2 linked regions of the Homo sapiens genome follow. The protein of the gene in region 1 interacts with the protein of each later gene in a pairwise test. Each region holds a gene or a part of one and is shown in the gene's direction. Other genes may lie near its edges.

Region 1 (3,745 bases):
TCCAGAGACGCCAAATACGAGGTGTGGCGTGAAATTAGCTGCTACGTCTAATAGATTAGGAAGAGGAAAAGGCATATGACATTATACGGTTTTTTGCCTTTGGAAGCAGAATTTAATGGTCATTGGCTGCTCTGTCACCAACCCTCACACTAAGCACAATACAGATTTCTGCTGCAGAGCAAATTGGGCTGTAGCTTTGCAAAGAAGCTTAGTTCAGGGCACTGGAGAATTACATTTTTTGGTCCAAGGGCTTTTTTTGATGAATTGGAGAAGAGCTAGTTATTTGTGTATAAACGTTTGGTTGACTGCTGTTTGGAGGCAGCATGCTGTATAGAGAATGTGAAAGTCTAGATTCCGTGTAAACTCCAACATCAGCTAGGAGATGACCAAATTTGTCACCTTCATGCTTCCCTTTTTCCCCCATCTGTAAAATGGGTGAGCGTTGACTGTCTTGTTCCTGTCCTTATAAGAGTAGATTGTTGAGAAGAGAAATCTAGATGGAATATTTTGTGCTTTTTAGAAGATAAGTAATAGGACTGAGCTGGTAAATTTTTTAATGCTTAGGATTTGGTGCTGCTTGTGAGCTTTTCGACAGCTTACTATGTGCCAGTCTTGCTGGCAGCCTCGCAGCTGTGAGAAACTTGGTGAGTCTGGCCAGGGTAGTTGTGATTTCTGTGGATCTGCACCTCCTAAGTCCGCAATAGTGGGAGGATGAGTTTGGATTTTTAGCTTGTTCTCTTGTTTTGATTGGTAGGACCTGGAAATGGTGAGAAATTTCAGTCTTTTGCCAAAGGGTATATGCCTTTGTCCTCATTGTTGATTGGAGTTAATTATGGGCTTCTATAGTCTTTGCTGTATAATTTGGGGCTTTTGCAGTAACCTCTGGGCATAATTCCCTTTGCTATTCCCAACATCTGCCTTCCTACAATCATTTTAGAAGGTTTAACAATTCCCACATTTTAGCACTAAGCAAAACTTCCTTTTAGTTGCTTTTGAGTCTGGTAAGTGGACCTACCTGGATATATTGTCTTCAGTGTGGTATGAGTTAGCTTAGAGAAGTCTTTTTGTTTTGTTTTTTGTTTTGAGGTGGAGTCTTGCTCTGTCGCCCAGGCTGGAGTGCAGTGGTGCGATCTTGGCTTACTGCAACCTCTGCTTCCCGGGTTCAAGCGATTCTTCTGCTTCAGCCTCCCCAGTAGCTGGGATTACAGGGGCCCACCACCACACCCGGCTCATTTTTTTATTTTTTATTTTTAGTAGAGCTGGGGTTTTGCCATGTTTGCCAGGTTGGTCCCGAACTCCTGACCTCAGGTGATCTGCCTGCCTTGGCCTCCCAAAGTGCTGGGATTACAGTCATAAGCCACCAAGTCTGGCCAACTTAGATAACTGTTTTTAAGTGAGGTAAGAAATGGGCCCACCAGTTGGGTGTGGTAGTGTGCACCTGTAGTCCCAATACTTGGAAGGCAGAGGCAGGAGGATTACTTGTGCCCAGGAAGTTCAAGGGCACAGTAAGCTATGATGTGCCACTGCATTCCAGCCTGGGCAACAGAGCCAGACTCCATCTTTTTTTTGGGGCCGGGGGGATGGAGTCTCACTCTGTTGCCCATGCTGGAGTGCAGTGGCCCGATCTTGGCTCACTACAACCTCCGCCTCCCAGGTTCAAGCCATTCTCCCGAATAGCTGGGACTACAGGTACACGCCACCACGCCTGGCTAATTTTTTGTATTTTAGTAGAGACGGCGTTTCACTGTGTTGCCCAGGCTGGTCTCGAACTCCTGAGCTCAGGCAGTCCGCCCACCGCAGTCTCCCAAAGTGCTGGGATTACAGGCGTGAGCCACCACGCCCAGCTGACTCCATCTCTTTAAAAAGAAAGAAAGAAAGAAAGAAAGAAATGGGCCCAGCAACTAATCAGGTTTCTGTTCTGGGGAACTGGGCTAGGGCTTATAACACACATATGTTGGAATTCAAAGAGCTGGGCTTGATGCCTGTGGTCCTCAGTGTAATCTAGCATTGCTATTTCAGGAAAACCAGTGGAGTTCCCATGTCTGTTTCTCATATGTTGAGTTGATTGCCTTCCTTTGGATTTGGTGAGAGATCTAATTTGATCTGACCATTTTGAATCATCACGTAATACACACTTGGTTGGAAATAGGTACCTTGTTCACTTTTCAAGATTTGTTTTTTACCAAGTTAACAGATGAGGCTATTACTGGCTGTCTTCATGGTAGTGAGGTGGAGAAATGGAGGACGGTTCTGTAGTGGTTTCCTATCTATTTATTTGGGGGGGAAAAAAACAAAATATAGAATTCTGGAAAGAGAGGCAGGCTGCTTTGGCATCCATTTGGGGCCCTGCTGTCGTGGACAGGCCTGGCAGACGTGAGAAACTTTTTTCACTGTATCCTTGGGTCTTCAGGTCTAAAGGGATCTTTTTGAGTAATAGCATGACATGCTGAGAGCAAAATGATTTTATGGTGTGGCGAGGAAGTTCTGATTTTATGTTTGGGTTTTGGGTCCACACACTGTTGATCTTTTTAACTATTTTTTCCATGAAGTGGTTGTGGTTGGCAGCTCTCCTTTAGAACGAACTCCTGGGCTTAAAAAAAAATCTCTGTCCATTTGAGTCCTGTGCAGTGCTTCTCACTCCTTAACATTCTCTCTGCCAACATCATTTCTAAGGTTTTAGACCTTGGACCATGCCTCTTGGCTTTTCCCTGGAAGTTCCCTCTATAGGTTCTTTAGTTGGTTTATGATGGAGTTTTGGATCTGACCTTGCTGCACAGATGTCTGTGTATTGGAACTAAAAATGAACACATGGTTTTTGTGCCTGTAGCACATGAACAGACACTGGCTTATGACGTGTTGGAAATGGCACAGGCTGGCTGACTTGGCACCGTGTGCTTTAGCAGGGGCAGAGGTACATTGGAGCCATAAAATCTGGTATTTGGACATCCTAGTTTGGAAGTTACTTTAGAAAAGGACATGTGTAAATCTTAGGGCATCAGTACAGGAGATTTATGGGCAAGATAGGTTATTATTCTTTCATTGTTTTTATTTTAGGTTTCAAGGAATTTGAAAACCAGCCAATGGTTACATCTATGTGTTGTTGTTCTGTCTAGTCTAATGCTTTTAACTCCTTTATCCCATAAATCTGTTGCAGTACAGTTAATAATTTGCAGGGTAGAAATGGACAGAGGCATCCTGTTTTTTTGTTACCTACAGCATAGGCAGTAATTTAGCTGACACAAAGGACTGCTGGCCTCAAAGACCTTTGCCTAAGGCCTGCTGCCCTGTCCTTTTCTGTCACCTGAAGCACAGCCCACCAAATGCTATTCTTTCCCACCCTACTCCTCCAGTCTTTGTTGCTGCTAAGATGAAAGTGGTCTACTGGCAAAGTTAGAGGGGTATAACTTTGCACCCTAATGCTTTTTGAGGTGATCTGGGGAAGAATAAATAACATGGGAATGTAGTATAGAGGGTTAGTTTAAAATGTTATCTGAAATTCCTTTATTCATATTGCTCTCCAAAATATAGTGTGTCAGCTTAGAATGGCCTTTTATCATTCCAAATGGTTCATGTATACAAAAGGGGATATATAAAGTGTATGTCTTTGAATAATAATAAAATACAAATGTAGGTACCCATCACTAAACTTAACAAATAGAATGTTATCAGTACCTTTGAAGAGTGTTGCTTTCTAATTACATCTTACCCCTCCCCCAGGTAACCACCATCCTCAATTTTATGTATT
Region 2 (3,745 bases), on another chromosome or scaffold:
CACGACTTGGGGTCAGGGTTGGGTGGTCTCTTTCTGCTGCTCAGGAAACAGCACTTTTTCCCAGTCTCTGGGCCTACCAGGGGGGCTGCTTCTGAACAGACCCACGTGCCTATGCTGTGCCAGGCCTGCCAGGGAGGCCAGGGCTGACTGCTCTTCCCCTCCCATGGCTGGTGCCCAGCCCCCCCCCCCACACACACACAGTCAGGGGACCTGGCCCAGGGCTGCAGCTGATGAGCTCTCAGTGGGGTGTGGGGTGTGGCAGGTTCTCCTGCTCCTATCCACTCTCCTCAGCCTGTGTCTGCCCTCCCTCAAACCCCAAATAGAAGCCTACTTCTGTTTCATACGTGCCATAGGTCATCACAGTTTCAGGGTCCCCGCAGGGACCTGCTCCTCTCTGTCTTGACATACATTTGGCTTTTCTGTTCTGGGATTCCTTCCAGGGAAGTTCCCTTTGCTGCATTGGTCCCCACACCAAAGAAGTGTCCTGCCCGGGGGAGTCCACCCCACACCCAGCCTCAGGCTGCCTGGTCTCAGCAACCAGTCCTTGTGGCATGGGCTGCAGTGACATCAGCTTCCGTTGCCCATTCAGGGCTGGCCAGCAGTGTAGCCAGCATCCTGCTGGTGGCTGGGTTACCTGTGAGGGACCTATTGGGTCAGTGACAAGAAGGGAACTGTAGGGACCGGGTGGGGGCTGAGGGGAGGCCCGGGGTTGAGCTCACTGTGTCTTCTCTCTCACGCCATCCCTTCTGGCCCTGGCTTCAGCATCTCGTAAGTACCTGTATGACTTGGTGCCTAAGGGCACAGCTGTTGTCCCTGGGGAGACCCTCCCACCCCAAATAGGTTTGGGCAGGCCAGGGACCTGGGTCTTGAGGGAGTGCCGCTCTCTGCGGGCCTGGCTCCCAGCGGGCACCGAGGTCGCAGCAGGGCCTGCTGGGAGCTGGGCCTCGACAGGTGAGGCAGGCTGGGACTCCTCTGCCGGGCCCCGTGCCCCAGACGCCCTGCTGGGCCCTCTGCTCGCACCACTGTCCCGACGTCTGTGTCCCTCCTGCCTCCGGCCAAGGGCAGTGCTGACTCGCGGTGGTTTCCCAGGGTGTTCAGGGGCTACGCGGAGAGGAAGCGCCGGAAACGGGAGAATGATTCCGCGTCTGTAATCCAGAGGTAGGGCCTGCCAGCCACTCGCCACCAGGGTCCATCTCTGGTCTGTGCTGGCCTGGCCTGGGCCCCCTCGGCCCTGGCAGACCTGATGGGGGAAGGGTGGTGGCGACCACTGGCCTGGCCCTGCTCTGGGGACGTGGCAGGCAGGAGAGGCCATGTGGCCCGGGCTGCAGGAAAGCATCTCACCCTCAGTCCTGCACTCCGAGGGCACGTGTCTCTGTCTGGGCTGGGGCCAGCAGCAAGGCCCCCCTCCCCCACTCCAATCACACAGATGTGTCTGGGAAGCTTTTTTGCCCGTTTTGGATGTTGGGCCTTGGCAGGGTCCAAAGTTTGGTGGAGGAGAGGACCTGCCCCTGAGGTGGCTCAAGGACACAGAGCAGGAGAGGGGGCTCCTGCAGGCCCCCAGCCCGCCATGGGGTGGTGCAGACAGGAGCCCCGCTCTGCTGCAGCGCAGGCAGGCTGGATCCTCTGCCACATGGGCGTGGAGGCTCAGGGCGTAAGTCCCGGGCGAGGACGGAAGGTCAGAGCCTGGGAATGCAGCTCGGGAGGAGACTTGATCCAGAGCGCCAGGCACTGCACCTTTGTTCTGGAGTTGAAGGGGAGCCCTGGAAGGCTGTCGCGGGAAGAGCACTGGGTGGGATTTGCCTTTGGGTGGGAGGTGGTGCCAGGAGCCAGGGAGAGCACTGGCTTCCCACACCGAAGGGGTGAGAGTAGAGCCATGACCCGACGGGGGCTAGGTGGGCAGGGGCTGCCGTCACCCTCTCACGGCCCTCTTCAGCCCCTGGCTTCCTCCCCCAGGAACTTCCGCAAACACCTGCGCATGGTCGGCAGCCGGAGGGTGAAGGCCCAGAGTAAGACCCCGTGCGGCGGGGGTGGGGGGGCGGCGTTGCGCTTGGCTGGTTGGGGCTTTGCTTGCTGCTAGCTGCGATAAGAACGACCCCCGCCCCAACCCCAATCGGGCCCTGCCTCAGGCTCCTCCCCTTCCAGCCACTTCCCCAGCCCGGCCCAGGCTCCTCCCCTCCCAGCCACGCCCCCAGCCCGGCCCAGGCTCCTCCCCTCCCAGCCACGCCCCCAGCCCGGCCCAGGCTCCTCCCCTCCCAGCCACGCCCCCAGCCCGGCCCAGGCTCCTCCCCTCCCAGCCACGCCCCCAGCCCGGCCCAGGCTCCTCCCCTCCCAGCCACGCCCCCAGCCCGGCCCAGGCTCCTCCCTTCCCAGACTCCGCCTCTGGCCCTGCCCCAGTGTTCTCAGATCCTGCCCCTGAACCAACCGAGCCTCTGGTCCGTGTCTGCTTCATGTGCCTTAGACCCCACCCACATTAGCTTCCTCCTCTGCCCAGGGCCCCTGTGGTCCCCTCGCCTGGGGTCTGAGACTCCCGAGGCCCCGCCCCACCCGCTCGCTAATGCGGGTTTTGCTCTCTGCAGCGTTCGCTGAGCGGCGCGAGCGGAGCTTCAGCCGGTCCTGGAGCGACCCCACCCCCATGAAAGCCGACACTTCCCACGACTCCCGAGACAGTAGGTGCCCCGCACAGGCCCGCCCACCTTCCCCAGAGCCTCCCCTAGACCCCAGACCCCTGCTGGGGGTCCCCTGCCAGGGCCGCTGGGCTGCGCTTTTGCACTCCTGAATCTTGGTTTACCTGTTTGTGAGATGGGGACGCCCTCAGCATCTCCGATCGCAAAGGCGGGGCTAACAACGGCCGCGGCAGTGCTGGCCGGGGGCGCCTGTAGGGCCGTGCCCACCGCCACTCGCAAGAGGCCCTCAGGGGCAGGGGGCTGCGGTGCCCGCCCCCACTCCCTCCCAGGCGCCCGGCGGACTTGGCTGGAGCTGATGCCTGCACGCGCCTTCCACCGGCCTCGCACCAGGGTCTCCCTTCCCACATCAGGCCGCTGCCCAGTGGTGTCCACAGGCCTGTCCTGCCGGGCTGGCGGCGACCTCTGTATGGTCCTCCCACTTGCTTGGAGGACCCTCCGGGATGGGGCTTTCGGGCCCTGTGGGCCTTGGGGCCATGGCCAGGATAGGAGGTGCTGCCGGGCCTGCTGTCCTGGTGACCCTCTTGCTTCCCAGGCAGTGACCTGCAGAGCTCCCACTGCACGCTGGACGAGGCCTTCGAGGACCTGGACTGGGACACTGAGAAGGGCCTGGAGGCTGTGGCCTGCGACACCGAAGGCTTCGTGCCACCAAAGGTCATGGTGAGGCCCAGCCCGGGCAGTGCTCCTCTACACCCCGAGCAGGACTCCGCCCCAACCCGAGTCCAGCCAGCTCTGCCTGGGACCACGCAGCCTTCTCCAGCTGCCTGGGGGAGGGTGTCTCACAGGGCTATACCCTTGGGCTGCCTGGCAGCCAGAAGGTAGCCTCATGGGGGCTCCCACAGCCCCTTGGCTTTTGGATGGGCCTGGGGCCCCTGAGCAGCTCTTTGTCTCCGCAGCTCATTTCCTCCAAGGTGCCCAAGGCTGAGTACATCCCCACTATCATCCGCCGGGATGACCCCTCCATCATCCCCATCCTCTACGTGAGTCCCGCCCCGGGCCTGCCCCCAACAGATGCCCTCTTGCGGCCCCACCCTGGGCCAGCGCCGGCACCCCAGGTCCCCAGG

What was found. Proteins that work in one complex are often made in the same cells at the same time.
Region 2: the proteins of SOCS7 (region 1) and NSMF interact in binary tests that used the Homo sapiens proteins (3 or more experiments, as listed by UniProt).

Annotation. Positions count from the first base shown.
Region 1 is NC_000017.11:38,354,819-38,358,563, forward strand, and holds part of SOCS7 (suppressor of cytokine signaling 7), read left to right. Parts: intron 1-3,745. UniProt on the Homo sapiens protein: Substrate-recognition component of a cullin-5-RING E3 ubiquitin-protein ligase complex (ECS complex, also named CRL5 complex), which mediates the ubiquitination and subsequent proteasomal degradation of target proteins, such as DAB1 and IRS1.
Region 2 is NC_000009.12:137,452,652-137,456,396, reverse strand, and holds part of NSMF (NMDA receptor synaptonuclear signaling and neuronal migration factor), read left to right. Parts: intron 1-762; coding exon 763-768; intron 769-1,089; coding exon 1,090-1,158; intron 1,159-1,167; exon of another isoform or gene 1,168-1,310; coding exon of another isoform or gene 1,311-1,651; intron 1,652-1,953; coding exon 1,954-2,006; intron 2,007-2,576; coding exon 2,577-2,666; intron 2,667-3,216; coding exon 3,217-3,341; intron 3,342-3,577; coding exon 3,578-3,661; intron 3,662-3,745. UniProt on the Homo sapiens protein: Couples NMDA-sensitive glutamate receptor signaling to the nucleus and triggers long-lasting changes in the cytoarchitecture of dendrites and spine synapse processes. Part of the cAMP response element-binding protein (CREB) shut-off signaling pathway.